Regions from separate parts of the Homo sapiens genome. Here regions 1, 2, 4, 5 and 6 are each reported to be linked to region 3. The links are microRNA targets in miRTarBase. Many come from high-throughput screens and were not tested one by one. Region 3 holds a microRNA gene; each other region holds the end of a gene's coding sequence.

Region 1 (5,277 bases), not on the chromosome of region 3:
TATTTAAATCTTGATCATTAAACAAATAAGTAAATAGGATATTTCTTATTTATTTATTTATTTATTTATTTATTTATTTTGAGACAGAGTCTTGCTCTGTCACCCAGGCTGGAGTGTAGTGGCGTGATCTCAACTCACTGGAACCTCCGTCTCCCAGGTTCAAGCGATTCTCCTGCCTCAGCCTCCTGAGTAGCTGGCATTACCATGCCCGGCTAATTTTTGTATTTTTTTGTAGAGATGGAGTTTCACCATGTTTGCCAGGCTGGTCCTGAACTCCTGACTTCAGGTGATCCGCCCACCTCGGCCTCCCAAAGTGCTGGGATTATAGGCATGAGCCACCATGGCTGACCAGATATTTCATTAATGCGTGATATTTAATATTTATTGTCAAAATCAAGTTTCTTATCTAAAATAAATGAGTTAGTTGAAAACAAACTAATCATGCAATTATCACGCAACTCAGCAGTTGTATTGCTGGGCATTTATTCCAGAGAAGTGAAGTCTTATGCTTCATATCCCACCCTCTACCCTCGCCCCTGGCAAAAACAAACAAACAAACAAACAAAAAACCTGTTTCTGAAAGTTCATAGCTGCTTTATTTGTAACAAATAAAGTAGTATTCCATTGTGTCTTAAAGCCACCCAATGGAATACTACTCAGCAATTTAAAGAACTGAACTATTGATACATGCAACAATGCCAATAGAACTCAAGGGCATTATGCTGACTGAAAAAAGCCAATCCAAAAAGTTTCATACAATACGATTTCATTTATACGTTTCTTGAAATGACCAGATGATAGAAATGGAGAAGAGATTAGTGGCTGCCAGAAGTGAAGATGGGAGGGAAGTGGGTGTAGCTACAAAAAGACAACGTGAAGAATGTGGCGATGGGAATGTTCTGTATCCTGGTTGTGCTATTGTACTATAGTTCTGCAAGATGTTATCATTGGTGAAAACCAGGGAAAGAATACTCATGATCTTTTTCTATTATTTCTTACAACTGCATGTGAATTAACAATTATCTCAAAATTTTTAAAGTTTAATTTTTAAAAATGATCTGTGATTTGTATTTAACCTTTTTAGTTTTCCTTTGGATTGATTTATGTATCATATTATAATGTATAGGTTGCAATATGATCTTAACATAAAAGATTCCTTTTATTACTAACATATTCCACATTCAGTTATATAGAATATTCTCATTATTAAAAAGGTTCTTTTAAGCTGCTCAGCCTTGTTACATTTAGAAGACTATAAATATATAAAAATACAAACACATACACAGAGATTTCCTTTGATAGTTTTGACCTACCTTTTGGTTTTCTTGTTCAAAGTGTTCTTTCCTCTGTCTTTTCTCATATTTTTTAAACTTTTCTGTGACTTTTTTTTTTTTTTTTTTTTTTGAGACGGAGTCTTGCTCTGTCACCAGGGTGGAGTGCAGTGGCGCAATTTCGGCTCACTGCAACCTCCTTCTCCCGGGTTCAAGCAATTCTCCTGCCTAAGCCTCCCAAGTAGCTGGGACTATAGGCGCACACCACCATGCCCAGCTAACTTTTGTATTTTTAGTAGAGATGGAGTTTCACCAAGATGGTCTTGATCTCTTGGCCTCGTGATCCATCCACCTCAGCCTCCCAAAGTACTGGGGTTACAGGCGTGAGCCACTGCTCCCGGCCCACTTATCTTAATACTTGCAAAATTTCAAAATGAGAAAGGAGTAAATTTGGTTTTGTACATAGCATCTTTAAATACACTGCTATCCAAGGGAAGTATTGAGAGCCGTGTGTTGGGAATGGGGATGAAGGAAGTTCTCTCCCCAGAGAGCCTCGAATCCTTGCGTTGACTTTGAATTCTCAACAATCAACTGTGCTGGTAACAGAATAGGCTGGCCCAGATAGTGGGTAGGAAGGTGCAAGCTGCAGACTCATGCTTTAATAGTGGCCCCAAGTGACAGTGGCAGGGACTGCAGGCACTCAGCCGCATCCAAGACCACCGGGCTGAGGAAGGGCGGCTGTCCTTGCGTGGGTGGACATGAAGGTCAAAAAAGTCCTGGAGGGGGCCAGGATGACTTAAGGCAATCAAGGCCCAGATCTGCATGCCACATGGGTGCAGGGGGCCAGGGTCACACTCTGTCCTGGCACTGCTCCGGGAAGGGAATTGCAGGCCATTTGTCCTCCTCAGACATTGGATCGCCCTCTGGAGGTTCAAGAGTGAAAGGTTTGAGGGGATAGGGAAATGAAGAGATCACAAGACAGATGTACATCCAGTCTTGACACTCAATGCCAGGCAGTCTTCCAAAGCCATCCTCTCCTACCCTGGGTATTGTCCTCCTTTTCCATATTTTTGGTTTTGGTGGTGTGCAATGACATCCCATGGTGGCTTGAACTTTTGCCACTTCAGGATCCGTTTTGCTCCTATTCCCCAATTCACTAAGAGTCACCACCATCCACCCACACCCTCAAGCCAAAACCTAGGAGTCCTCCTAGATTCCCCTCTCCTCCCTCCACATCAGCAAGTTCTGTTGGTTCCACTCCCAGATAGAGCCTTTTCTCTCCATCACAAGCTCCCTGGTCCAAACCATTATTGTCTCTCTCAAATCTTCCAAAGCTCCCCCTCCATTCCCTTTACCGTCCCTATCCCCACTCACTGTCCACATGCAGACAGAATGGACTTTCTGAAATGTGAATCAGATTCTGGCATCGCCTCCAGTTTACTAGACTCCAGCCAGCAGACCAAACCTCATCTTTGACCATGTCAAGCCCTTGTGCACATACTACGGACTGTCCCCTGTCAGAATGAATGGTGGTTACATCCTCTTCCTTTAGATCTCAACTCAAAGGTCGCACTTCCATGGACTTTTTCAAATTAGGCACCCATATCTAAACAAACCCAGCCAACTACTCTATCACATCACCATGTTTTTTTTTCCTTCTTAGCATTTCTGTAAGATAATTGGAGAGTCTGATATTTATTTATTGTTCGTCTCTTCCACCAGTATAAGTTACATAAAAGCAGAGATTGTGTTTATCTTGATCACAGCCAAATCCCTAGCATCTGGCATAGTGTCAGCTCAGAGAAGACATTCAAAAGATATTTTTGAATGAATAGATAAAACCATTTCTTCTTTAAAAAAATTACTGTAAATGTGGCTACTACACCATGAAAATAGACCAAGAAGCATGAGAGTTACACAATAGACATTTATTCACTTCAACATCACAATTTCACACGAAGTTGGAGGAAGCCCTTCCCTAACAAAACAAGCATTCGCATTAGGGGAAGGAGGCTGACCTGCTCTAGGGATGAAATACATCTACCAAGATATAGATAAAAACAAAAACAAAACAGATGGTAGAGCCAAAAAACAGAGACATTAAAGGAAATGAAAAACGTTATACCAAGTAATGTTTATAAATCCAGATCATAAGTGAACGTAGGTTACAAAAATGGAAGTTGTAAGTATTGTTATTCTTGTACTTTTCACACAAACAGAATTTTTAGAAAAGCTTAAGGTCAGGGAGTGCTAGAGAGTTTCTGTATGGCAGGCAAGAATTCTTCCTTTTGAACAAGACCGAAAAACCTCAGGACAAAGAGAAAGTATATCTTTTAAAAACTGATTTCATAGTAATGTTTCTACATATTTTGAAGCACCTTTATGTATTTAGAGCATATCAAATTAATTCATTTCTTTCCCTGTTAATAAAAAAGGTACATTCACAGAATCAGTGTACTTAGAATAAAAAATAAACAGAGGAAATAAGAACTAACTCGAGTTAATAACAACATCTTTAAGGACAAGTTTGGTCATTTAAAAACTAAGTCTTGTTTTGTTTTGCTTGTTTTTAATTACTCCTTTCATACTTAATATTTCAAATATAGCTGCTTCAGCAGGACAGCTTTTCAGTATCACAGTAAGTACAGCCCAATACAGGATCATCCAAAAACACGTTGACACTTCCAAGACACTGGCACGGGGTCCACGGAGTTTTGCGCGTAAAATTTTAAAAACCCTTCCTACGGTGATGTTTAAGGCCAGGAGCATTCATTTCTCAACCTTGTATCAATCCAGGATCCATCGGACTAGGTTTCATTAGGCAAGAGAGTAGTTCGTTCCTCCTCTGTGCTGAGGATGTTTTGAGATTTAGACCTACATTGAGGGAAAGAAGAGATGAATCTCAATATTTCTCATCTTAAAAACAAACAAACAAACAAAAAACCAGTACCTGTATCTCCATCCAACTATCTTTTTAAAAAAGTTTCTACTGCCCGGGCATGGTGGCTCACGCCTGTAATCCCAGCATTTTGGGAGGCAGAGGCAGGCGGATCACTTGAGGTCAGGAGTTCGAGACCAGCCTGGCCAACATGGTGAAACCCTGTCTCTACTAAAAATACAAAAATTAACTGGGCATGGTGACCCATGCCTGTAATCTCAGCTACGTGGGAGGCTGAGGCAGGAAAACCGCTTGAACCCGGGGGGCAGAAGTTGCAGTGAGCTGAGATTGTGCCACTGCATGCCAGTCTGGGTGACAGAGCAAGACACCATCTCAAAAAATAAAAATTAAAAAAGTATCTACCAACTGATGAGCCTCAGAGTGCTTAGAAATCCACTGACTGGAAGAATAAATGTAAAATGTTATTTATTTTCCACTTGCACTGGCTAACTTTTAAAGAGAGAAAAAAAGCCCCAAAATTGACCATACCTTTTTCTCCTTGAATACTCCAGTAGATAAAACAAGCCCATGGCTAATCCCTTAAACACAATTAAAAGTACTGATTAATGTAAATTTTCCAAGTCAAGTTTTTCCACAAATATAAGGAAAATGCAAATAAAAGACTGATTACTCACACTTATCAGAGCCCATAGACCTTGTATAGCTGCTGCCCATTCAAAACCAATTTTCTCATACAGAAATCCACCCAGCGTTGGTCCCATAAAAGCACTAACAATAGAAAGAAGAAAAAGTATTCAATAGTGCAAAAAATAAATAATTACTTCATGAAAAGCTACATGATCCTTCAATTGTAAGTCTTCATTACATTGGAAGATAAGTACTAAAGATAAAGCTAATTCCTGGGCACAGCATTCAGTAAAAGAAAATAATTCTACCTGATAATGACATTCAAAATTTTTTAACAATTTTGAAATTATTACTGCTTCTGAAAAGTTGATGGCTTATATAAAAATAAAAAATATGAAACAGATTTAAAAAATTCTTTATATTATTCTATTCTCAGTATTTGCAACTAATATAACTCAATTCAAAACAATATATTACATT
Region 2 (5,277 bases), not on the chromosome of region 3:
TGTGTACTGAGTATATAATTTATACTTAGCCCCCACGGCGGGGTGGTTCTCAGAAGTGGAAGACAGGTGGGTCTTTGGAGAACACGGTGGGAATCTTGGTGCACTGACTAACTTGATGGGCGCTTGGTTCCTCTTCCAGCCAGCTGAGGTGGGTGTCCTGGTTGGCAAAGACCGGTCAAGTTTTTACGTGAATGGGCTGACACTTGGGGGCCAGAAATGTTCGGTGATCCGGGACTCACTGCTGCAGGATGGGGAATTTAGCATGGATCTTCGTACCAAGAGCACCGGTGGGGCCCCCACCTTCAATGTCACTGTCACCAAGACTGACAAGAGTGAGTTCCTGAGTCTTACCCTTCCTTTAGCTCCAAGATCTCTAATGTACCGCCTTCTGGTAATCTTGAGGGTGCTTTTTTGTGTGATTCCCCAACATGAAGGGAGTCAGACCAGTATTGTGTTCCTTGTCTGCTGGATGCTGGAACACGGGATAGTCCCTCCATTCTGTCTCAGTTCCTCATCTTGTAATTCGAAGTTGCTGAACTGCATTACCTCTTAAATTACTTACTGCCTTGAGCTCGGATTAGAAACTGTTTTCTAGGAGTATAGGTAGATTGTTGGGGTCTTGAATCATCGAGTTCATCGTTTGAGTTCTTTTGTTAGAACCTGGAGGTGGCATGCACATCCACAGCCCTTTCTAGCCTGAACACATGAATCAACAGTCTATGAGCCTTTGACCCCTAAGTTTTTAGTCTGTTCCTCTCCAGCGTTTAAGCTTGATTTTCCTCTTTTGAAAAGCCTTATTGTTTCAGGGTGACTGACAGCCTGCCTGTGTGTGGTGGGGGGGCGGGTTGGGAGAGATGAGGTTGGGTTACAGCCCCCAGGGCTGGACAGCTGCTGAACAGCTGGCAGGGGGTGGAATTGTGACACCTGGATCCTAGCCTCCTTTCTCTTTCCTCCTCCTCCAGCGCTAGTCCTGCTGATGGGCAAAGAAGGTGTCCACGGTGGTTTGATCAACAAGAAATGTTATGAAATGGCCTCCCACCTTCGGCGTTCCCAGTACTGACCTCGTCTGTCCCTTCCCCTTCACCGCTCCCCACAGCTTTGCACCCCTTTCCTCCCCATACACACACAAACCATTTTATTTTTTGGGCCATTACCCCATACCCCTTATTGCTGCCAAAACCACATGGGCTGGGGGCCAGGGCTGGATGGACAGACACCTCCCCCTACCCATATCCCTCCCGTGTGTGGTTGGAAAACTTTTGTTTTTTGGGGTTTTTTTTTTCTGAATAAAAAAGATTCTACTAACAAGGTGCTGTGTGATTTGAGCTTGGGTGTCAGAATGGGGGATAGGCACTGTGACTTGCCTCCTTTATCGTGGCTTGGGAGCAGGGAGGTTGAGGTACTACAAGGTGCAGGAATTTGAGCTTCTGGCCAGGTGGCCCTGCCCCTCCACAGTGGCATTTCCAGGCCTAAGTCCTCAGTGTGCTGGTCAAATTGGTGGATGATGGAATAGAGCCATCTGGACCAGAGAATGGGTGCAGGCCTGCAGGCAAGGCAGGGCTAGTTGAGTCATCCTTGTGGGTGGGGCTCCCCCTTCTGAGTCATAGCAAATGCCGGCTGGGGCTGTCCCCATGACTATAGGTTAGTGTCTCTCAGCATTCCCTTGCTCCTTATGGCTAAAGGGGTGATTCCACCAAAGGGTTAAGTTCACCTGTGTGAGAATGATCTTACCCTTCCTTAGTCCACAAAGAAACAATTTTATTAGCCCAAGAAGTGAAGACCCAGTCCCTCTGCTTGCCCCAGCTCCACCCCAAAGCCCCTCAAAAGGATAGGTGTGGGTAAGGGAGAAGCTTGGGATGGAATGTCCCCTATCCCTCAGAAGACTGGAGGGAAGACGACGGTCTGTGCAAATAGGTCACCAGAGGTGTATGTGTGGGGGGTTATTAGACCAGGATAACAGGGGAAGAGGGAGGGGACAGTGGGGGATCTGTTGAAGGCCCAGGAAAAACAAGGGGAGCTGGGGCTAAGGAACCAAAGGAGGTGGGAAGAGTGGGGCTAGAACCCAAAAGTGGGGTCCTTTCTGAGGCAGGGTGGTCCCTTGGCTCCCCTTCATCACCCTCCTCTTGCCCTTGAGTTTCTTCCTCTTGGTCTTCGTCCCCAGGACCCCGATGAACAGGCTGCTTGCAAATGGGGCAGGTCTTCCGGGTCTGAGTGAGCCAGGGGTCCACGCAGCGGCTGTGGTAGGCTGCAGAGAGGAACAAGGTGAAGCACCTGGTGGCTGCTGGTGGCAGAGGGGCATGGGCAGGCAGTGAGGGCCTCACCATGAGCACAGGGGAGTACCCGCAGCTTGTCCCCATCCTCATATTCATCCAGGCAAATGGCACAGACATCATACTGGTCTCCTGGGACAGAAAGAAAATAATCTAGTCCTTCACTGAGCCACAATGACCCAGGGCTAAGGCTTTTAAAGCCTTGCAAAAATTTCCCCTCACCTACAAAGCCAGTGGAAGAGATAAGACAGGTAGGCAGGATAAGGTCAGGGCAGAACATGGAAGAATTTAGGGCTAGAAGGGACAAGCAAAGAGAAGCAGAGGTAAGAAGGGAAGTGGGTTTTTGGGGAGGTGTGAGGGTGGAGATAGGGAGTGGAAGGAACGGAAATGGGCAGGGCTTCTGCCACAGCCTTATACGGGCACTGGAGGCCCCAGGGCCTAAAGCCCCAGCCCCTTGGTACCGGTTTCTTCCTTCTCTAACTGAATCCTCCCCATTCCTCCCATTTTTCTGCTCTGTCCACATCCCCTATAAGCAAAGTCTATCCCTCTATTGTTTCCCACAATTATTTCACTTAATCATCTTTGCTTTCCATCTCCTCTCCCGTCTTCGTTGTATTTATGCATAAAAACAGAAGAAAAGACAGCATCTCAAGCTGAAACCTTCCTACTGCCATCTTTATTTTTATTATTATTTTTTTGAGAAAGGGACTCCCTCTGTCGCCCAGGCTGGAGCACAGTGGTGCAATCTCAGCCCCCGACAACCTCCGCCTTCCTGGTTCAAGTGATTCTCCTGTCTCAGTCTCCCAATTAGCTGGGACTACAAGTGCACACCACCATGCCCAGCTAATTTTATTTTTTTATAGAGATGGGGTCTCACCACATTGCCCAGGCTGGCCTGAACTCCCGGGGTCAAGGGATCCACTTGCCTCAGCCTCCTAAAGTGCTGGGACTTTTCTGTTTTATCATGTCACCCAGGCTGGTCTCAAACTCCTGGGCTCAAGTGACCTGCCCACCTTGGCCTCCCAAAGTACTGGGATTAGAGGCACTTGGGATTACGTGAGCCACTGTGCCCGGCCACTGCCATCTTTGTATACCCTATCTTCTGGGCTCAAAGTCCTTCAGAACCAGGTAAACTGTGGGAAAAGCCCTCTTCTCCCCTAACCCCCTCACCCTTCTGATAGTCATGTGTAGGAATCTGTTTCAGTTGCTCTTTGGTAAGTCGATTCCGCTGGAGCCGTTTCCGGTGCTGGATACAACGAGCTATCTGGGGGAAGCGGGGGTGGATGGACAAGGCTTAGGAACAAAACTAGACAATCTAGGACAAGCCACTCCCATCTCCCAACTCCAGATCCAGTCTGGCCTCACAGGCCTCAGTGCTTCCCATCATGTTCCCTCAGCTACTCACCATTACTGCTCCCATGGCCAAAACCAGCAGTCCCACAATCCCTGTGAAAGGGATGAGGTAATAGCCCAAGGGGAAGGTATTGTCTGGAACCAGAAGCACCCGAGCCCTGGGAAAAGGATGACCAGTCTCAGCAGGGCGAGAAAGGCAAAGGGAGAAAAAAAGAGGGACAAAGTAACTGGCTCTGGACAAAGCCCATAGGTGGGGACAGGAATGGGAAGAAAGTCAAAGAGGCAGGGAAGGAAGGACAGGAGGCTGAATGGTTCGGGTAATGAGGAGGCCTGGGCTCCAGGTTGGCATGGAACTGCTTGCTGAAGGAAGAATGGGAAGGAGGCACATGTCCTACCCCTTCTCGTAGACAAAGAGGGCACGCAGGTACTCGGAGCTTCTCTCCCCAATAAATACAGACGGGATCCAGATCTGCTGCTGGATTTCCTCTGCAGGGATCAAGGTGTTACTCTGGGGACTCACAACCTTCTACTCAAATCCTCTGGGAACCCTGGCATCTTGCACTTTGGCCCCACCCCACCTAAAGGATTGGCTTCTTTTCCTGAGGCCTTCAGCCTTCCCACCATCTCTGGGTCCTACTGAAAGCCCAGCTGTATAGATTCCCCCAGCCTTACCACTATTCCACACCATGTTCAGAAGTTCATTGGAATTCACATTGTGTACTACAGCGGCACCATATCCAGCCTTCTGGGCATTTAGGACCTAGGGAGACAAGGCAGAGGACAAGGAGCCATCATGGGCCTTACCTGTCTTCATTCCTGGTGCCTTTTTTTTACCCTCAGCTGCCCAGCTCCCCTTCCTCATTCAGCAACCTTGAGGTCAAAGTTGCAGTCGAATCTTCGAAGCAGCGCAATAAAGACTGACCCATTGACCGGGGCTGGGGGTGGTGGGGCAATGGGGCTGCAGGCATTGTCTGGGTGAGCCTCCACAAGGAACCCCTGAAGGATGGAAGCAAACAACAGTGAGATTTCTCCTTTCTAGATTCTGCTCTCTACAGGGGCCACCAAACACACCAGCCCACATGCTGCACATCCTCTATCCTCACTTCCTCCTCCTTCCTGGGGTCTGAGTGAGCATCCCACCATCACAACCTTCTCTTAGCCTCTTGAAAAGGCAATGACATAAAACATCCCTTCACCAAACTCTCCCATCATCCCTCTCGCTGTCCCAGATGGGCTAATCTGTACCCTATACTGCAAGCTAATGCAATTATTTTTGCCTTCTAATATTCCAATTGTAATTCAATTCTCAAACCACCCATGTCACTTTCTCTCAAGTTCTGTTTCACAGTCCCCTCTCCAGCACATACTCATACAGACACACTCCCCTCCCTTCAGTTTTCTTTTTGTTTTTCTTTTTTTTGAGATGGAGTCTCGTTTTGTCACCCAGGCTGGAGTGCAGTGGCGCGATCTCGGCTCACTGCAACCTCCACCTTCCGGTTTCAAGTGATTCTCCTGCCTCAGCCTCCCAAGTAGTTGGGACTACATGCGTGCACCATCACGCCCAGCTAATTTTTGCCATTTTAGTAGAGATAGGGTTTCTCCATGTTGGCCAGGCTGGTCTTGAACTGGGATTACAGATGTGAGCCACCGCGCC
Region 3 (5,277 bases):
GCCACCATGTCTGGCTATTTTTTTTTCTTTTGTATTTTTAGTAGAGATGGGATTTGGCCATGTTGGTCAGGCTGGTCTCGAACTCCTGGCACCAAGTGATCCACCTGCCTCGGCCTCTCAAAGAGCTGGGATTACAGGCATGAGTGGCAGTGCTCGGCCTTTATTCTTTTTCAGACAGAGTCTCGCTCTGTTGCCCAGGCTGGAGCGCAGTGGCGCGATCTTGGTTCACTGCAACCTCTGCCTCCCAGGTTCAAGTGATTCTTGTGCCTCAGCCTCCCAAGTAGCTAGGATTACAGGTGTGCACCACCATGAATGGCTAACTTTTGTATTTTTAGTAGAGTCAGGGTTTTGTGATGTTGGCCAGGCTGGTCTTGAACTCCTAGTCTCAAGTGATCTGCCTACCTCAGCCTCCCAAAGTGTTGGGATTACAGGCGTGAACCACCGCACCCGGCCCATTATCTTTATTTTTTAACACAAACACACACATGGTCAAATCAAATACCTCTTGCCTATCATTCCCTTGGCCTGGCAAACATGGACTCAGGACCCAACTCAAAGGTCTCTGCCTATGGGAAGCCTTTCCCAAATTTGTGAGGAAGGGTGGCTGTTTTTGCCTTTCATTCACTGATTCAGTGAGTAGTTGTTGAGAGCCTACTGGGTATCAGCCCCTGGAGCTATCACAGTCAGCTACCTGAGGATAGTCAAGCAGCCCCATAAAGGAACAATTACCCCCTGGGACAATGGCCTTGAAGCAGAGGTTCCTGCTGTGCAGAGAACAAAGAACAAGGTCCCAAGAAGACACCTGGAGGCTGCAGAAAGCATTCCTGGGAAAGTAACCTGTGTGCTCAGAGGGGAAGGTGGGCAGAAGCCCCAGGCCTCTGTGGGATGGAGGAGTGCCAGGGGAAATGAGAGAGGCTGGAACAGGACAGCAGAGGGGGAGGGGCTCCAACCAAGCCTGGGCATGGATCATGCAGGTCTTTTTAGGTCATGTTGTCCTAAAGCAACAGGGAACCCTAAAATTTGGGTGGCTGGGGGAAGGGAGTGTAGATATTTGCACTTCAAGAGGATCATTCTGATCTCAGTGAGGCCAGTGATCTGCCAAGGAAGCACTGTGTCCACTGAGGCAGCTGCCAGGCAGGAATGGAAAGGGAGGAATTCAAGAGAGGCTTTAGGAGACAAGAGTTGACTTGGATGCAAGAGTTGATGGATCTAGCCGACTGACCACCTCCCCCTACTACACTGAGTGCTTTGGAGAGGCAAGTAGGACCAGGTAGTACTCGCCAGGGTCTCCTCCTTCCTAAGAGTCCAGCAGAGGCCCCATGCAGGGACTATGTTTTCAGTACCTTGGAATCCCTACCCCAAGAGCAGGGGCTGGCATGCCGATGGTGGTCCAGAGATGCTGGGGGGCCATGCCGCCGCTGCTGCTCCAGTCCTCCCTTGGCTGCCAGATGACCCCCACCATGGCAGCCTCCAGGAACTCAGGAGACAAATCCCAAGCAGAGCAAAGCCTGGGTCTTGCAGGCCAGCCTCTGTGTGCAGACAGTCTCTATCCAGAACACACAGGCTTCCCAGGCCTAGCACTTGCTGGGTTCCCCAGCTCTGGGCTGACCAGACGCATGCACACACCAAGTCTGCCAGGGTCTGTTCCGGGTTCCATGTGTGGTGACTGATGTCTTGTGATGGATAGCTTCTGAGGGACAGTGTGTCCTGGGGTGGCTCCGGCTCTGCAGTGGGACAGGCTGGGCTGAGACTCCTGGCTCTGTCGCTCATTATCCATGTGACTGTGGGGAAGTCTTTAGCTCCCCAAGTCACAGGTCAGTTCGTTTGTAAGATGGGGATAATTCCATCTACCTCCCAGAGTTGCTGCGAGGCACAGACAGATTTCACATAAAGTACCTGCCCCAAGGCCAGATGTGTAAGAGAGACTCAGTTGTGGGTTGTTGTTCTTTGTTTGAGACACAGCTTAGTTTTTTTTGTGTTTTTTTAAAAATGATTTTTAGTCTCCTAGGACTTGTAGCAAACGGGTTAGTGTCTCCTGGTCATCGGAGCCATGCCATACATGCTATTAAATATTACATCAATTCATCTAACAATCTGTCTAAATCTGGTCAGAGGGACTTGGTTATGTCTGAGCAGCTCTGGTGTTTTAGAAACCTGTGCTCCTATCCTGAAAGTTTCTCATTCAGAATCCTAGCAGCCATGGTGGGAAACTCTTGTCTTTCTGTTCTAAGCCATTTAGTATATTATCTTCTATCTAGCAGGACACAAGGTGAAGGAGACAGAGCTGGGTTTTTGCAGACACAAAGATCTGGGTTTAATCGCACCTCTAACACTGAGCAACTAGACAGCCTAGCGCAGACCTCTCGATTGGGGCAAAGGGCTGTGGTGAGGACTTTGCCCTTGAATCTCAGTGTTCAGAGAGTAAGCCGCCCAGAGATTCTTCCAGACAGCCCTCTGGTACTGTCCCTCCCCTGCTTAAATCCTTCAATGGTTATCATGCCTTTAGCATGGCTGTCCCTCCATTCATCAACATGTACTGACCTGCTATGTACTGGGTGCTTTGTGAGGTACTGGGGAGGGTGCAGCGGATAGGAAGTCCAGGGTCTTTCCCCTGCATTTAGGACCCTGCCCCGGCCCCTGCCTGTCCTTCCTGCCTTGTTGCCCCTTGCTCCGCACCCCATAGTGCACCTTCTAGCCACACTGAGTGCTTGCAGGTCTACGAATGCACAAGGCATTCAGTTCTCCCCTGAGCCTCTGCTCCTGTTCCTTCTGTTGTTACTCACATAGTCCTGTTTCCTCCTAACCTCACCGTGTCCTGCAGTGACTTCACTGTGGCCCTCAGTACAGTCTGGCATGCAAGGGAGCTTCTGGGCAACAGTGGGGTGCACACTGGCCATGGAGCCCAGCAGACCTGATCCCACTCTCCTCACACCCTCCCTAGCTGTGGCACCTGGGGCAAGTGACATCCTCCCTCTGCGCCCCCTCCCCTCTTCTGTAACATGGAGGTAGTAACATCTGCCTCAAAGTTTTATTTCGAGGGCTACAGGCGACCTGATGTAGGGAAGTGGTGAGTGGTAGCCACTATAATTGTCTGTGTAGTTTCTAGCCTGTCACTCTTCCTAGACTGTGCACTCCCTCAGGGCAGGAGCTGCACTTCTGCTGCCTCAGGATCCCCAGTGTTGGGGGAGCAGAGCCTGGCGTGCATGCATGAAATGAGCATGTGTGAGGTCTTGGGGAAACATGTCTCTTGAAATCAGAAGGCTTTTTGGCTTTGAAAGAGTTAAAATCTGCTCGTGATTATAAACAAGCTCCATTTCAGCTCCGCACTATCACTAGGTGTGAGTCACAAGGCTTAGCAGGTGTGGGCAATAATTAAAGGCTTCAGCAATCTACCTGGGCAAGGTATTTTTGCCTCTTATTCCAAAGAGGAAACTCTCTCTATGGAGAGCAGAGGAGCTCATTAATGAGAGTAATTAGGTGTAAAGGGGGTAGGGGCTGGCATCAGCTGCAGCTTGGAGGAGCTAATCATTAAGCTCTGTAATCTCCTCCGCTGAACACCAGCAGATCAGGTTCGGGGCTGCGAGCAGGGCTCCCCCACCTGAGTACCTGACCATGGGCTTTGGAGAGGCTGAAAGACCTTACCTCTCCCCCTGCCAGGTTCCACCAGGGGACACCGTGTGTGTGTGTGCGCGTACACACACGCGCGCGCGCGCACACACACACACACACACACACACACACACACACGCAGTGTGGGGTCAGCTGCCGGGGAAAGAAGCCTGAGCATCCAAGAAGACGCTTTGCTCTCAGTTTGCACTCACCTTTGAGGAGCATGTGCTGGTTTTACAAAGTTTCCTGGATATAAGGAATGGATCAAAGACTCTGTTTTTGGCCTCCACATGCGGAGGCTAAACTCTCATGCCTAGGCTTCTGGATTTTCTAGCCATTGCTAACATTTAGCTAGCACTGCAGCAGATTTCATTTTCTGAATCCATCTCCCTGGCCCATGGGCTCTGTGACTTGGGAACAAGGGGTTGATTCCCCTGGATCTTCAGTGGCTGGCATACCCCGGGTGCCATAGATCACTGGCTGCATGGTGGGGTGCATGGGAGCAGGTGGGAAGAGAAGAGATCGATGGATTTTGGCATTGTCACTTTTCTCAGTTCTGTGGCTTTGGCCAAGTCACAACCTCTCTGAGCCCTAATTTCCTCCTCTGTAAAAGAAGCTCAATCATAAATACGTTTAAAATTTCAGTAAAAATGGGGAGAGGCTGAATGTCAGGCAAGTGGGCAGGTAAATCCAATGAAGGCCCCACCCTGAACTTGAGCTAGTCAGAGGGCAACGTGTCCCAGGTCAAGGCTACAGGAACAGAGACTCGCCCCCGGAACACTGTGCTCTTAGATGCCAGCGCTGTGGGGCATCTCTGCACTGTTCACAGACAGCGTCACCTTGGCTCTGGGCTCTGCCGCCAGCCCCAGAGCTGCTAGCCCAGCCCTGGAATCTTTCTGCCTCAGCTTGATACACACCGAGACTTCTGGGAGGCCAGGAAGGAAGCAGCTGGCTCCTGCATCCCCCATGAGTCCCACTCCCTAAAGCACCCCTTTGATCTTCTAACCTGTAGCCATGGCCAACAGGAGCCTCTTGGAAAGTTGGCACCAACTAAATGGCATGTGTCCAGCCAGCAAGCCTTGAGCATGAGTGTGCTGGCATCATCTTCCTTGTCCTTAGAGCCCAGTGCTGGTGCAAGCACCTTGGTGAAACCATCCCTGATATCCAACTCCTCACCCCCACCTCATATGTTAGTTCCCATACCTTCCATGGTCCCCCAACCTTCTGGGCACCCTCCACCCTCCTATTGACCACACATTTGCCTCTTACACTCCTCTGGGAATAGGTAATAAAACTCTCTTTTCCCATTGGGACTGATCCTGCCAACCCCCTGCCCAGCCACAGGGGTGGGCATGCGACCCTGGGAGCCGACTGGAGGACTCCATCCTCTGGTCACACCAATGAGTTTAGGGTAGCCCAGAAGTGATCGACACTAACTTGAGCAGTCTCCACTGAGAGTTGCTGCACAGACACTGGAGTTGAGAGGGACTCACTTCAAGCTAGAAGGACCATAGAGGCCCCCATATTTCTATAGCAAAGCAAGAGAATGTTTGAAAATAAAACAGATAATGAAAAGCAAAGCCAAACAGAGGTCACTGAGAGTCTAGACATCATTTGAGCTCCTGGATCCAGCCATGCTGGTAGCAAGACAAGTCCGGGATGTCTCAG
Region 4 (5,277 bases), not on the chromosome of region 3:
CGTATCAACTTCAGAGGTTTGTTATGGTCATAAAATGGATTAATATATGTAAATTCCTTAATAATTGCTGATTGTGCTCCAAAAGTTAGATGTTATTGTTATTAGGTGGTGTTTTGGCAATAGTAATACCTTTAAAAAACAGACTCTCTGTCCTCGAGGATTTACGATGCAGTGCGACAACCCTGGCCAATGGCTGGGGGATGTGCAGATACCACCACATGATGAGTGTGGGTCACGTGTCTAGCCCTATAATCACGAAGTCATTACTAGCACCTGGGTCATGGTACAAGCATGACCTCGGGAAATCACTGTGACTAAAGAAAGGCAAATCCCGGTAAGAGTCTGCACAGATGCTCACGGAAAGTGTACTCCAAATCTTGTCTCCTGCTGGGATGGGAGAGAAGAAAATGTTCCCAAATGGAAATCCATAGATACGGGTGAGATGGGCTGAGAGGGTGAGGAGACTTACATATAAATACACCTGTGTAGAACAGGCTGCTCTCACCTGTGAGTCCCAATAGCATAAAGAGGCAAGGGTTGTCCAGGTGGGCTGGAAGACAGGTATGGTCATTGCCTGCTCTGTTGAAAGTTTATCACGGAGAGACCCCAGCCTCTGAGCTCTGCAGGGAAGGAGAAGCCCCACCTGCCATGATATCTGAGGAGGGAATTTGCTGTGGAAGGAAAAGGCCACGAGACTGGCATGGTCTCATAGTAAAAGAGGAAGCAGGCAGAGTTGCCACCCCTGGGAAGTTGCTGATATCCACCTTGGGGTTCCCACGCCTGGGAGCCTTGGACAGTAGTGGAGACAGTTTGACTGCTCTGGGCCTGCTCTCTGTCCCAGGGGCACTCACTTCATGCCAGGGTTCCCTTGGCCCTTCCTCAGTTGACAGCCCTGATCCACAGGGCCCTGTAGCTAAGGACTGAGTTTGGATTTTCAGAGACTGTAATTCTGGGTGTGGAAAGTTTGAGGTCTTGTTACTGTAGCAGCCTTTAAGGATGGAACCAAAACTCCTGGATGTCCCCTGCAAAAAGTCCCTAGGGCCAACATCAAGTAACAAGCTGAGCAAATAAGAAATGGCAACTCTTCTCAGGTCTGTCAGAGAAATGAGGTCACAGAGCAGACCATTGTCTCCAAAACTGGAAGTTAGACAAAATGATATAGAGAATTACAACTTCCTGAAGCCAAAACCTCCATGGGAACCAGTGCCAGGGTAGGAAAACCTGCACTGTAATTGAAGAATTGCTAGAGGCTTGGTGTGGGCCAGTCTGAGGAACAGATTCCAGCAGGACCCAATCGCAGGGAACTCCAACACTGTTGTGAGATTTACCTCCAGGAGCTTGATTAGGTGCTCAGAGTGAATATGAGAGAAACATTCACTTGTGCTTCCTGGGGGGTGTGGAGGGGAAAGCGAATCATTCTGAACTACACCAGAGCATTCTTTCTTCTTACCAAGCCCAGCTCTCAGGAGAAACTATTTTACCAGTGCCTAATCTGCTGGGCTTTGATCAGAGCCTAACCTACCTGGGGAAGGCAAGCACCCAACTCCAGCCCCCTCTGGCCATCCTGTCCCACCATAGGGGAAAAAACTGAGAGGCACTTGTGAAGTCCACAGGCCAGGGGCACAGGCTCACATAAGACTGCAACCTCATGTAACTGGTGATGAGCCCATGTGACATTTTTGGGAAACAAATAATTGAAAGAGAGATTGGACAACCACAGTGAAAATGCAGTGAATAAATGAGCAGTGAAAATGCTGGAGATAAAGTTCAAATTGTATGTCAGTGGAGTTATAGAAGCATGAATAGCTGGTGAGGCAACGTAGACCCTGGTAGTGTTTGAAAAACTTCAGATAGGCAGCCCGCAGGACTTAGAGAAGGTGAATTTAACAGATACGGGATGGGGTACTGACAAATAGGGCGAAGGTGTCCCTGAGGATGTGACAACAGCAAAAATCTTCACGTGAAAGGAACTTTTGCAGAGATTTCACGACACTGAAAGTGCAAATGATAAGGTGCTGGAAACAAATCCAAACTTAGAGAGGAAGGTGATAAAACACCCAGATAGAAAGGATGTTTGCTCCATATCCGAAGTGTACAAGAAGGAGGTAAGCACTCTTCCAACTACTCTTGAAACATTTTTACAAAGAAATAAAATACTGAAACACTTGATGTTTCCAATGTTTTGAATTACAGGGTACTAATAAATATTCATTTATTATTTTTTATTGCCTTCTACATTTGTAACTGACACTATGAGAGTTTCCTATATTTTGACAAAAAATTGTAAAGGTCACAATATGATCATTGTTTTTCTGATTGGATGTGGAGATTGCTTTCCTGGGTTTCCGGCTGCACAGTCATTCTTGCAATCTTGCACTGCTGTGAAAAGCGAGGGCTGCCTGTATTCGTTATAATGCTTATGGTAATAAATGCTAAATAAAAATTAATCAAGATAAGAGAAATTAGAATGCCAGGGTAGACAGGAGAATTGATATTATGTACAGGGTGGTTTGCCAAAGGTGCCTTTAATAAAGTGACATTGAGCAGAGGCTTGAAGGAGGGATGAAGGGAGCCATGCAGCTGTGTTGGGGAAGAAGCAGAGGAGTGATACAATTTGACTTTTCCAAAAATCCCTGTAGCTGAAAAATGAAAGCCAACAGAGGCTACAGAAGTGTTCCCGGAAGAGATGATGCTGGCCGGGACAGGGAGGGGTGATGGAGGTGAGAAGTGTGCAGGTTAGGGATGTAACTCAGTGCTCTCCTGCAGCAGGCTTGGACTGGCCCCTGAAAGCCAACCGTTAAGTTTCAGGAATTTTGCAATCCAGTTGTTAAACTTCTGGTAGCTTGAAACTGGCCATGTTGGGGGTGATTATACCACAGAAATTGTCAAGTACAACAAATCAGCTTTTTTTTTCCTTTAAGAGAGTCCATTTTTAAACACTTACCATCTCACGAGTGGACATAAGTATTTTGAAGGCAGAATTGAATATGGGGTGTAAAGAGACATCAGGGAGGATTCGGGAGTCAAGGAGGCTTTTGGACTGCGGCAGCATTTCCGCCATGAGCAGCAGGGCGGGGAAGCCTGCAGGATGCTAGAACTAGTGTTCCCATCACAGAGAGAGCAGGGAGAGCTTCTTTGTTTCTGAGTGTGAGGAGTAGGACCCTTAGACAAAGAGGAAGGATAATCTTTTTATTTTCTTAAAACCACTTTGGGAGTGCATTTGTATTCAAGAGGCAATAGAGAACCTCAACAAGGCTGGGGAGTTGGGATAGGCAGGAATCTGGAAGGCAGGATAACTCTTGAGAACCTGGAGAGCGTCTGTGGTTTACGGTCAGTCTCAAGGCGATGGATGGGAGTCCTGGTGTGTTTAGATTTGGCATGTTTCTCGCCTTCTAGGGAGGTGCCGTTAAGTCAGTGCCCAGAGCCCAATCCCATGGCACCTGCTCAGGACCATGAATGAAGACCTTGCTCTGGGGCATCCAGGTCTGTGTGAAGGAGCAACAGGAGCCTGTGGGCAGGCAGATGTCTTGGGAGGGGAGATGTTTGGAGCCAAGTCTAGAGAAGCTTCTCACTGGCTCATTCTCTCAAGCTGAGCCTCTCAGGAAAGGAAGGAGGCAGCAGAGATGAGGGTCCCACGTGGCAGGGGAGGAAGGAAGGAGCTGTAGGAAAACACATCCACACTTAGTCATCTGCTCATCTTTCAAGACATGTTTCCTGAGAGTCTGTTATGTTCTCGGGGCTGGTCTCCTGGGATACCTGTCACTGGTGGACAGGCAGTCCTGATAGAACTCTGCCTGCTCAGCCATCCTGCCAAGTCCTGATGCCCTTTCCAATATTCCTTCCACTCAGACACACAGAGGGTCAGAGCACAAACAGCCTTCAGGGCTTCCCATTTGGGTTTCTCAACATTAGTTTACAATGTGGATTTCTCTGACCCCATGGAGTCCCAGCATTCAAATAATCTACAGATAGCCTGCAAGGGACCACCCACTCATCACTGCCTCCATGAAACTCCTAGGGCACTGTGGACATCTTTGAACACATTTCAAGCATCCCACATTGTACACCACCCACATAATTTCTGTGGGTTGGGAGCCTTTTAAAGGGTTCCCCAAGACTTCCGAGGGTGCGGAGGGAGCTTAACTCCACGGACCCTGGTGCTGCATGGCATGTGGGCTGGGCCTTCCTGTTGGCCTTGCCCTTCTGAGACAGCCCTTGGTCTGTCCTCCCTTCCTTGTACTTACAGTCAGGTCTTCTGCTTCCAGGGGACGTAGATGGGGCCCAGGAGGACAGCTATGAGGAGCAGCGCAGTAAGGGATGATGCCGGGCCTGGAAATCAGGGAAGACGAGGGGCTATGAGAGAGACCACTTGGGAGGCCATTGTAGGGGCCTCCACTTACCCCATCTGAGGCTGCCTGGGCCCATCTATGCCCCACCTTTGAACCTGCATCCTGCCCAGGCTATCTTCACTCCAGCACAAGGCAGAAGCCACAGAAAGAGGCTCCCCATTCTCACTCATCCTGTCCCAGGTTGCCAGCTTATTCTCCTGGAGGGAAGAGGTGGAGGGGGTGTGTACTCAGGTATTCATACATGTGGCAACGGGGTTCCTCACTTGACCCTCACAAGCCTATGGGAGCAGGGATTGTCATTCCATTCTGCTAGGGAAACTGAGGCCCATGGATTTTAGGGAGGGTCACAAGGTTACTTGCATTCAAACCTAAAGAAGCTCATCACTAGTGTTCCTTAGGTTGATCCCTGAGACCATGTCCTTTGGAACAAAACAAGTCCAAATTCCTAGGGACATTTTAATGACTATAAAAGGGTAGGCAGGTGGCTTGAGGATGGCTTCACAATGAGAGTTGCAGGTTCCCTGCTTAGCCCCAGAAGTAAGGGGAGGACTCCGTGTTCTCAGAACTTGGAGGAGCCATGGAACACTGGACATAATGAAACCTTCCGGCTAGAAAACATCCTGGTGAGTCACGGAAATGGGTCTCATGCTTGGGAGGGCCTCAGATGTCACCTAGGCCACCTCCACCCCAGTGCAGGTGTCATCTGAAATCTTTCTGTTAGTTGGGCACACTCAGTTACGGGGAAGCACATGTTTGGACGCTGCATTTTTAACATGAGCAGTTCAGGCTTTTAAAATCAACATTTTTAACGCGAGCAGTTTGGGCCATTAAAGATATTACAGTATATTTTAAATAAATAAAATGGTGCTGGTGGGTCCTTAAGGAAGAAATGGAGAACTCAGCATCTGTGGCTGCTGGGGTGTTGGAG
Region 5 (5,277 bases), not on the chromosome of region 3:
TGATAACATAAACAATCACAAAAGACTGCAAAAATCATAATCCTCCACAAAAGCCATCACAACTTCACACAAGAAAATTCTTCTGCAAGGGCATTGACCCGGAGACTATCTGTCCAAACTCAGACTAGCATCACTCTTGTGATTGATCTTTGTGGTCAAGGATAATTATTTCAAAACAATTATGCAATCCTCCTCTTTTTTTTTTTGTCTGAGACAGAGTCTTGCTCCGTCACACAGGCTGGAGTGGAGTAGAGTGGCATGATCTCAGCTCACTGCAACCGCCATCTCACGGGTTCAAGCGATTCTCCTGCCTCAGTCTCCCCCAATAGCTGAGATTACAGGCACGCACCACCATGCCCAGCTAATTTTTTTGTATTTTTAGTAGAGACGGGGTTTCACCATGGTAGCCAGGCTGGTCTGGAACCCCCTGACCTCAGGTGATCCACCTGCCTTGGCCTCCCAAAGTGCTGGGATTACAGGTGTGAACCACCACACCCAGCCCCTCATTTTTATCTTTAAAAACCTTTGTCTTCCTTTACCTCCCTTGAATACGCATAGTTTACTAAGGCTTGTGTATTCCCATTGCAATGCTCTATTCCCAAAACAAACATCTTTTTTTAGAGAGCCTTTCTCTGTTTACTATTTAGGTTGATACTGGCAAAGGGAAAAAAGTATGTATCAGTTGCAGGATCCTTGACCTAGGCCTTTGCTACTCAAAGCGTGGTCCTGGAAGGGTAGTGTGGACATCACCTGGCAGCTCATTAGCAATGCAGAATCTCAGGCCCCACCCCAGACCCACTGAATCAGAACCCCTACTTTAACAAGACTGCCTCTACGCCCAGTTTTTGTTTTTACTTTTCAGCTATTTATTTTTTATTTCAATAACTTTTGGAGTACAAGTGGTTTTTGGTTACACGGATGAATTGTACAGTGGTGAAGTTTGAGATTTTGGCTCACCTGTCACCAGGTAGCATACATTGTACCCAATATGTAGTTTTTTATCCCTTACCTTCCTCCCACTCTCCCTGCTTCTGAATCGCCAATGGCCATTATACCTCTCTTTATGTCTCTGCTTACCCTATAGCTTAGCTCCCACTTATAAGTGAGAACATAGAGGTTTGTACATACAGATTTAGTCTTCCATTCCTGAGTTACTTCACTTAGAATAATAGCCTCCACTTCCATCCAAGTTGCTGCAAAAGAATGATTTTGTTCTTTTTGATGGCTAAGTAGTATTCCATGCTGTATTATGTTTGTTATGCCTGATAACATAAACACATTTTCTTTTTTTTTTTTTTTTTTTGAGACAGAGTCTTGCGCTGTTGCCCAGGCTGAGGTGCAGTGGCGCAATCTCAGCTCACTGCAAGCTCCGCCTCCCGGGTTAACGCCATTCTCTTGCCTCAGCCTCCCGAGTAGCTGGGACTACAGGCGCCCACCACCACGCCCAGCTAATTTTTTGTATCTTTAGTAGAGACAGGGTTTCACCATATTAGCCAGGATGGTCTCGATCTCCTGACCTCGTGATCCGCCCGCCTCGGCCTCCCAAAGTGCTGGGATTACAGGCGTGAGCCACTGCGCCCGGCCAAACACATTTTCTTTATCCACTTACCAGTTGATGGGCACTTAGGTTGGTTCCATATCTTTGCAATTGTGAATTGTGCTGTGATAAACACCATATGTGCAGTTTGAGAAGCACTGATGTAAATTCTCTTTAAAACAAACAAACAAACAAAAAAACAGACTAGATCGGACACAGTGGCTCATGCCTGTAATCCCAGCACTTTGGGAGGATGAGGCAGGTGGATCGCTTGAGGTCAGGAGTTTGAGACCACCCTGGCCAACATAGTGAAACCCGATCTCTACTAAAAATACAAAAATTAGCCAGGTGTGGTGGTGCACGCCTGTAATCCCAGCTACTGGGGAGGCTAAGGCAGGAGAGTCAGTTGTACCTGGGAGTCAAAGGTTGCAGTGAACTGAGATAGCGCCATTGCATACCAGCCTGGGTGACAGAGTGAGACTCTGTCCAAAAAGAAAGAAAAAAAAAAAAAACAGACTAAACACCATGGATACAAATGACTGGCTGAGCACTGTTTCTATTACCTCAATTTGTATCCTGAAGAAAAGACATAGAAATGCGACCCGATTTTGAGGTCAGACACCAAACATAATATTTTCAAACAACACATTTCTTGATAGGTTCAAAATGCAAAAATAAAAACAGATATAAAGGTTATAAGAAGTTTAGAAAAGAAAACTCTGGAGAGGCCGGGCATCGTGGCTCACACCTGTAATCCCAGCACTTTGGGAGGCTGAGGTGGGTGGATCGCTTGAGGCCAGGAGTTCAAGACCAGCCTGGCCAACATGGCAAAACCCCGTCTCTACTAAAAATACAAAAAAATTAGCTGGGCATAGTGGTGGGCGCCTGTAATCCCAGCTACTCGGAAGGGTGAGGCAGAAGAATCACTTGAACACAAGAGGCTGAGTTTGCAGTAAGCTAAGATTGTGCCACTGCATTCCAGCCTGGGCAACAGAGCGAGACTGTCTCAAAGAAACAAAAACAACCAAAAACAAACTTTGGTTTTTTTGAAGATATAATTCAAAATAAAGTAGATGCTTTACAAATGATAATCGAGCTGCCAAAATTCAGAAACAATAATTACTTTGACCATTCATTACACCACAGCTTTGTATTCTCACCTTTCAGTTACATCATATATATATTTCCTTAGGAACCACTAACTCTCTGACATATCAGCTTCCCAGCTGAAAATGCATTTACCTCTGCAGCATTTAGAATTAAAAATTATGTTTTCGATGTATATTTTCAGTCTGAAAATGTCTCCTCCACTCCCTGAAAACAACCCCAGCCAGTAAATGCAATTCTTTGAATAAATAAGGTGGGCTTTTTTGTTTGTTTTTTCATATATTCTGGCAGGGTCTTGCTCTGTTGCCCAGGCTGGAGTGCAGTGGCAGGATCACAGCTCACTACAGACTCCACCTCCTGGGCTCAAGCAGTCCTCCCACCTCAGCCTCCCGAGTAGCTGGGACTACAGGTACACACTATCATGCGCAGCTAATTTTAAAATTTTTGGTGGAGACGGAACCTCACTCTGTTGCTCAGGCTGATCTCTAACTCCTAGACTCAGGCAATCCTCCCGCCTCAGCCTCTTGAAGTGCTGGGATTACAGGTGTGAGCCACTGTGCCTAGCAAACAAGGTGTGTTGAATTAATTAATTTTAGTTAATTTCCAAATAATTTTTCTACAGCAGTTTTTAAAGATATTATGTACATACAATAAAATGCCCAGATCTTAATTATCCTACCAGATGACAATGTTATTAACCCATGTAATCCCCATGTCAATCAAGATATAGGACATTCCCATCACTCCAGAAAGTTCCAAGGAAATGTTTTTTCAGTATTCCCCAGCTGTACCTGCCACACAGAGGCGGACACTTCTACTGTGGGTTTCTTATTCTTATGTGGCCAGAAAATGGAACCAAAGATGATTTTACAACCGAAAGCTGATAAAATAGCATTAACAATGGTAAAGTTCCAAGTTGCCTATGAGTGTTTTTAATATGCTTTAATCTTCCATCAAAAACTTGTCTGATATGTGACTGTAAGGAATGAAAAAGACCTTGAGCTTGGTTCAATTAACAATGTAAATGTTGATATAATTGCCAAACATTGGCTATACTTATACGGTTTCTTGATCTCTCTATTTTCTTTAAGTAGGTTTAAGTGGGTTTTCTTCCAATGGGAAAAACGAGTACTCCTGCCTGACCATTTCTGATACCAAAGAGAGCTACAATATAGAGTGAAAACAGAAAATTCACTTGAAAAAAACTTTTGATTCTGTATTTGGGATTGAAGTTGTGCATTAGATAAGCTGACTGTTGTGTCTTTTGTTTTAGTCCAATATATTTTAAAATTGCATCCAGAGAGGAGTCTCTGAATGCCTTCTTCTTTCTTGGAATCAATTTACTCCATCAATTTGTCAGTAGGTCACTTTTAGGAGACAGGCAATGAAAACTGGCATAGTCATTCCAAGAAACTTATGAGAAAGGAACTTTTAGCTTTTGGTACACTGCAAATGTAAGTTATCAGTAGTATTAGTTTCACTCATAAACCCACGTAACAAAATTCTGAGGAATAATACCAACACAAAAAGCATGAGACCAAATATGATGCATTCCCAGTTATCCTTAATCAACATGTCCATATCCTAGAGAGTCACTTTTCTCTCTAATTACAAGTCACAAATGTGCTGGCATTGGAGATCAGAGCTCTGTTTTGGGGTGTGTCGCTGCATACTTGGGGGCCAGCTCTTGAATGAGATTCACATAGTCAGTTTTTTCTGCACAGGCCCTGCACTCCTCCCCCCAGCTATGCAGGATCTGCTTCAGCTCTGCCACTCTCATCTTCCGCAGGTCAACTGATGCCAAGTCCAGTGTTTTTTCTAAATGGCAAAAAGGAAAAAAGCCAATTACAAAATAAATGGAAAAAAAATCCCTATGAATCACTTCAAAAGGCATATAGTTTGCTTATCTTGGTGCTGACTACCCTATGATCCAAGGCAGGGAAGAATTCCAGTTTCCATGGAAACCAAGACACACCCAAGGAAAATGTGGTACAGCAGCCCTCTCTATCAGTGGGTTCTGCATCTGCAGATTCAACCAACAGCAGATCAAAAATATTCTAAACAAATTAAAGATAACACTACAACAATTAAAAAATACAAACAGGGCTGGGCACGGTGGCTCATGCCTGTAATCTCAGCACTTTGGGAGGCTGAGGCGGGAGGATTGCCTGAGGTCAGGAATTCGAGACCAGCCTGGCCAACATGGTGAAACCACACCTCTACTAAAAAAAGAAACAAAAAATTAGCCGGGCATGGCGGTGGCATGCCTGTAATCCCAGCTACTTGGGAGGCTGCGGCGGGAGAATTTCTGGAACTTGGGAGATGGAGGTTGCAGTGAGCCGAGATCACGCCATGCACTCCAGCCTGGGAAACAGATTGAGACTCTGTCTCAAAAAAAAAATACAAACAATACAGTATAACAACTATTTACAATGATATGGTTTGGATTTGTGTCTCCACTCAAATCTCACGAGGAATTGTAATCCCCGCTGTTGGAGGAGGGGCCTGTTGGAAGGTGATTGGATCATGGGGGTGGACTTCACCCTAGCTTTTCTCATGATAGTGAGTGAGTTCATGAGGGATCTGGTTGTTTCAAAGTGTAGCACCTCCCCCTTTGCGCTCTTCCTCTTGCT
Region 6 (5,065 bases), not on the chromosome of region 3:
GTTTAAATACATATGGATAATAGTTACAACACCCAAAAACATAAAACCTTCTTCCATGAGCTGGTCTCTGGAATGCTTAACTTTCGCATTTTAGAAATTCAACATTTTTGTAATTTTGTTGCTTACAGGCAAGAGAATGGGACTTTAGGCTGCTCTTTATAAGCATTCTCTAAATAACATATTTGAAGTATGGGCCATCTTTATTTCCAATAAAGAGAAACCTAAATTGGATATAGCCTTTGCTATGTTTTCCAGCACTGGGTTTGTAAGTCCCTGTGCTCTGTGACTTTGGATCTGGTGGCTGGAAGCTCACAGGTCTGGTGAAGATCGTGTAGTTAGCATGTGTATCCTCCTCAGTGATACCTGCGCTTAGGCTTCCTGTCTGACACCAGTGGCCCACAATGGGTGCAAATTAAGTCATATGTGACTAAGGACAAGCAACATGGTCTTAGTTCCCAGATCAACAGAGGTGGTATCTGTGAACAGAGAGAGAAACCAGGTAAAAGGACTCCATCATGAGCAAGCTTGTCTGCTCTCTCCTTCCCAGACCTGGAACTGGAGAAGGGGTGGAGCGGCTCTCATAGTGGTGAGCGAAGTTGAGAGACCCATGCAGCCAGGAGTAGAGTGGGGCAGGGAACACAGCAGCAGAGGCTCGGCCTCTGCTCACACAAAAGCATGAAAAGGTGAAATCCGAGATGGCAGAGGCTGTGAGGCAGGGAAAACCACAGGCACCCAGCCCTTCCTGGGAGCACCTCCCCGGGGCCAGGCCCAGCTGCTCTGATGTCTACCCCCTCAGTTAATCCTCACAGCCACCCCTGGGTGAAAGGGCTACTGTACTGCTGTGCCCTTTCTACAGATGAAAGGAGGCTGAGGGGTGAAGTGATTTGCTCAGCAGAGAGAAATGTCCGCTGGGTCGCGGCCTGTAGCTGGTGAGGGTAGGGACAGATCTGAGAAGACAAGCCTAAGGGAGCCAGGTCACAGGTGAGTGAAGAGCTCAGCCACCCTGAGTGGCAGCACCAGCTCGGGAATCCAGCTCCCCCCCTTGCCCCACCTCCCTGCCTCTCTAGGTGTCACTGAGGCCTGACTGGAGATTCCACTAAGCCGAGCCCCAACTATTACTCAGCCTGAATGCTCCCCTCTCCTGGCCTCCCTTCAGGCTCTCTCCTCAGCCTTTGCTTTCCCCAACAAGCAGGTGTTTCCCTGGCTCAGGGGCCTCTCTTCATGCTGCTGCCCCGATCTGGAAGGAGACTGGCATGCTCTGAGCACAGCTGCTCCTCCTATGAGCCCTACCCCAACTACCACGGAAAAGCCAGTCGGACCCCCTTTGGCCTCTCAGTCCTGTGCCTGCCAGTCAGGCCACCTACCCCTGGGAACCTACCCCAGGGTCAGTCTCCCCCACCTGACTGGCACCTGCCTCCCCCAGGCCAGGACTGTCTCTGCCCAGCATCCCACTCAGGCCGAGGTCAGGGACTGCCAAGAGAGAATCTGGCAGAAAAGGTGACATGGGTGGAGTTCGGAGCCACCAGGTTTGAAGCCTGCCCTGCACTCCCTCACTGTGACACTTGACTCTCTGAGCCTCAGTTTCTCCACCTGTAAAACAGAGGTGACCACAGCAGCACCACCCACCACAGGGGTGGAGAAAAGGCCACCAGCAAAGTTGCCACTGCAGGGTGAACCTCATGAGAGTTCCACACTCCATGAACAAGCAGGACGGGAGGACCTTGGGCCTGAGATGCACGCGAGTCCCCACCTGAGCAAGATGAAAGGCTAGCAGGAACCGGAGATGCAGCCTTGGATGCAAAACCCACAGCGCGCCCAGTAAGGTTGCCACCCCACCAAGAAAACAAAAGCTGTTCCAGACACTCTCAAAATTATCAGAAAAGAAATGAGCTTTGAACGGGAGTGAGTCAGAGGAAAGCTGATTTAGCTCCTCTCATCTCTCCATTTCCCCGAACAGTATGGAATCAGAAAGGGCTTTGAGCTGCAGGAATCTTCTGCACAAAAATACATTTGTGATTCAACAATGACCAGGCGGATGCACCAAGCTTTCTTGTATTTTTAGAAAAATCAAATAATCTTACTTCAAGTTCGTGTCATTTTTACATGGCAATTACTTTTAAATACCTTATCTAATGTTCCATAGATTTCCAAATTCACGTTTTGCTTGACACTTTGTATTTCTAAATGTATTTTAAATATCAAATATTTTATTTCACTGATTTCTATTTAATTTTATGAATCCTAGCTTTTTTAAAAACACAAAACATACCAACTCAGAGTGACTTTCTGAAATTAGGCAAAGTGACCGAGGCACTTGGCAACACTCCTTCCTCCAGCATCACTGTCACTAGTGCCTTCTGTCATTCAATCCTCACAACTCAGGGTGAGGAATCCCCCCATCTCCAGTTTACTGATAAACTCAGGCACAGAAAAGTGAAATGTCTCGCCCAAGGCCACACAGTTACACGTGGCCCACCAGGAAAGAACTGGCTGGAGTCCTAGTTCCTGCCTGGTGGCCACTACATTCCCCTCACTAACAGCTGCTCACTGACCCTAAGCACAACCCTGTGAAGCAGGTTCTAGTATCAGCCTGCTTACAGATAAGGAAACTAAGGCATGGAGAGGGTCCATGAATCCAGGCAGTCTGACCGCCGCACCACGGCTCGCAGCCCCCCAATAAGTTACTGGGGAACAGGTGAGGCGGATCAAAATCACACACTTTGAGAAGCGCTTCCCCACTCCCTGGTCTCACTGGATTCCCAGCATCAAGGGAGTGGCTTTATGAGCCCCGCTAAACAGATGAAGAAACCGGAGCACTCAAGTCACGTGACTTACCCAGAAGTCTGAGTGGCAGATCCAAGTCAGAAACCCTGGCCAGTCTGCCTCCAGACCCTGTTCCCTCACACTTACCCTGCCATGAGGGCACGATGGAGGTGACAGGTCACCGAGTGCACAAACCCACAGATACCTGAACACACCGTGGCTTTATTATTAACGGATGCCAAAAGCACACTTCCCAGAACCGCGCTAGAGGCGGGCGCCCAGAGGCAGCAGGACACTACAGCTCCTTCCTCTGGGGCAGAAAGGAGGGTGCCTGGGAAGTTCGAGGGCTGCAGTGGGGAGGCAGAGGTCCCAGCAACATTGTCAATGGCAGGCAGCGGCAGGAGGGGCGAGGCGTGGGCGAGTCCATGAGTCCAGTGAGGCGGCGCGACTCACTTGAGGCGGTAGAGAACCTTGCGCTGCATGCGATGCTGGATCTCGCCGCGCCGCAGCATGAGCTGCAGCACCTTGTGGATGGCGTGCTCCGGGTATTTCTGTGGGAGCACATGGCTGGCTAACGGCACGTGCTGCCCGAGGGGACTCCGACAGAGCCCAGACATCCCCAGGCTCACGGGGAACTTTGTACTCAGGCTCCTTTGACCTAAAGGGCCCACACTTCCTGAGTGCCCACTGTGTACCAGACACTGAGGCACACGGAGGCTAAGCCACTTGCTCAAGGTCACAGCAATTAAGAGGTAGAGCTGGGACTTAAGTCCCATCTGACTCTAGAACCGAAGCTCTAAACCTTTCTCTAAGCCTCAGTCTGCGCACCTATAGAATAGACACGATACCACCCATTAAACTGCCCTGAATCAAAATGAGATGATGTACAAGGAGCGGAGACCAGAAACTAGGATTAATCCTGAGATTTTAAAGGTGACAGGTTTTCCAGAGCATCTGGGAAATCCCATCTTCTCTCTATGGGGCCAACAGTACCCTCCTCAGTGAGCCAGAAAGCTCACTCTCATGGCTCTGCCCCTTCCCACTCCATGAAACGCCCGCCAACGGGGAAAGGCACAGACGGGAAGGGCTGCGGGGAACTTGTATGGGGTTTCACCAGAATCCAACCACCTCTGCTCTCCCCTCCCCTTCGTGGGACAGAAAAAATACCCCCATCCCTGCTCCTGATGAAGATGTCCCTAGGGAAGGAATGATGGCTAGAAAAGGTCTGAGAAAGGGACAGTTGTCCATCCTACCCCCGTTCAGGGCCTGTCTGCTGAGTAAGATGCCAGTGCTGAGTGGGTGGGAACCAGCAGAAGACCTGCACCCCGTGCCGGCTCACACCCCCACTCCAAGGCAGGCTCACCTGCTTGGTGAAGTCCTTGATGATGCTGTGCTCAGACACCTGGGAGCCAATGGCAAAGCGGCGCTTGAGCTGCTTCTCGATGCGGCTCAGCATCTCCTGGTCCTCCTGGCTGGTGAAGCCCTCCACCCCTGTGGGCATGGAGAAGTGAGGCAGCCGGGGAGCTGGGACAATGGGAGTTCTTGGACAGAGACAGCCTCTAGCCCAAGGAAGAACAGCCTGAGCCAGGCCCCGAAGAGTAAGTCAGAAAAGGGCACCGAGTGTGCCAGGGTGGTGCAGGCCTGATTGAGGAGACAGGATATGGCACATGTGGGGACACTCCAGGCCAAGCACAAAGTCACAGAGGCAGGAACACACCTGTCTCATTCAAAAAGCAGCCCGGGGCCCAGCGCAGCAGAGACATGGCCAGAGTGTCACTAGGGACCAAGTCCTGCGGGCCCTTGGAGGCCACAGCAGGACTCCTTTTGTTGCTGGAGCAGATAGATTAGAGAGAGAGTTGGAAGGGGCCCATCAGTGACCCAGGAGGGAAGCCAGCCTGCCCTGGACACATCTACGAGGTGCCCTGAGGAGCCCTCGGCAACCAGGAGGCTCGTGACTTCCAATTACTGCCACAGAGGCCTTGGTGTTTCAGCTAAGGAGATGGTGGGCTCATGGTCAAGAAGTCATTGAGAGGGGAGTCTGTGAGGCAAACTCCTACATAGCCCATAAGACCCAACTCAAATTATCACCACTCCATATCACCCCTGCCCTCTGTGCCTGCAGCATCCCAGAGGCCTCCACCTGCAATGTCTCATGTGACAGCAAGTGTCTCCAGGGTAGAGGCTGAGTCTTCACCAAGGGGGACAGGAGGAACAGGCCCCACCCACCCCATTCCTCACCCAAGTGCCTCCCCATTCAAATGCACCAAACCTGCTCCCTCCTGGGGAAACTGACACTTAGCGC

The links. The annotated mature microRNA hsa-miR-7150 reads CUGGCAGGGGGAGAGGUA and lies in region 3 at 3,640-3,657, opposite strand. An mRNA with a match to its seed (bases 2 to 7 or 8) in the 3' UTR can be bound and repressed. Matches are read on the target gene's strand: a 7mer-m8 pairs with bases 2 to 8, a 7mer-A1 pairs with bases 2 to 7 and ends in A, and an 8mer does both.
Region 1: the mRNA of SLC18B1 is a reported target of hsa-miR-7150. Seed matches in the 3' UTR shown: 7mer-m8 at 3,538-3,544.
Region 2: miRTarBase lists PFN1 as a target of hsa-miR-7150. Seed matches in the 3' UTR shown: 7mer-A1 at 1,171-1,177.
Region 4: miRTarBase lists SIRPG as a target of hsa-miR-7150. Seed matches in the 3' UTR shown: 7mer-m8 at 3,638-3,644.
Region 5: the mRNA of CDNF is a reported target of hsa-miR-7150. The part of its 3' UTR that is shown has no 7-base or 8-base seed match.
Region 6: miRTarBase lists MCM5 as a target of hsa-miR-7150. Seed matches in the 3' UTR shown: 7mer-m8 at 3,149-3,155.

Annotation. Positions count from the first base shown.
Region 1 is chr6:132,766,192-132,771,468 of GRCh38, forward strand. SLC18B1 (solute carrier family 18 member B1) reads right to left here. Exons shown (of 14, transcript NM_052831.3): 12 at 4,845-4,938; 13 at 4,699-4,748; 14 at 3,179-4,145. The coding sequence ends at 4,079. Among named protein-coding and RNA genes, the nearest start is that of VNN2, 11 kb to the left of the region's middle. RefSeq lists an enhancer at 2,015-2,174.
Region 2 is chr17:4,941,683-4,946,959 of GRCh38, reverse strand. PFN1 (profilin 1) reads left to right here. Exons shown (of 3, transcript NM_005022.4): 2 at 140-332; 3 at 963-1,308. The coding sequence ends at 1,060. RNF167 (ring finger protein 167) reads right to left here. Exons shown (of 10, transcript NM_015528.3): 4 at 4,494-4,619; 5 at 4,296-4,383; 6 at 4,019-4,109; 7 at 3,676-3,781; 8 at 3,441-3,534; 9 at 2,322-2,402; 10 at 1,738-2,245. The coding sequence ends at 1,944. Among named protein-coding and RNA genes, the nearest start is that of RNF167, 4.1 kb to the right of the region's middle. RefSeq lists enhancers at 521-600, 1,271-1,440, 1,501-1,590, 1,601-1,650, 2,521-2,570 and 1 more.
Region 3 is chr9:123,481,945-123,487,221 of GRCh38, forward strand. It overlaps MIR7150 (microRNA 7150), which reads right to left and starts at 3,678; the gene lies at 3,585-3,678. The region is part of intron 13 of DENND1A (DENN domain containing 1A); the gene reads right to left. RefSeq lists an enhancer at 374-1,239.
Region 4 is chr20:1,625,978-1,631,254 of GRCh38, forward strand. SIRPG (signal regulatory protein gamma) reads right to left here. Exons shown (of 6, transcript NM_018556.4): 5 at 4,245-4,329; 6 at 3,175-3,659. The coding sequence ends at 4,247. Among named protein-coding and RNA genes, the nearest start is that of SIRPG-AS1, 4.9 kb to the right of the region's middle.
Region 5 is chr10:14,815,697-14,820,973 of GRCh38, forward strand. It overlaps CDNF (cerebral dopamine neurotrophic factor), which reads right to left. Exons shown (of 4, transcript NM_001029954.3): 4 at 3,549-4,462. The coding sequence ends at 4,284. Among named protein-coding and RNA genes, the nearest start is that of CDNF, 20 kb to the right of the region's middle.
Region 6 is chr22:35,422,403-35,427,467 of GRCh38, reverse strand. MCM5 (minichromosome maintenance complex component 5) reads right to left here. Exons shown (of 17, transcript NM_006739.4): 16 at 4,127-4,254; 17 at 2,037-3,314. The coding sequence ends at 3,213. Among named protein-coding and RNA genes, the nearest start is that of MCM5, 25 kb to the right of the region's middle. RefSeq lists enhancers at 107-612, 613-1,120, 1,121-1,626.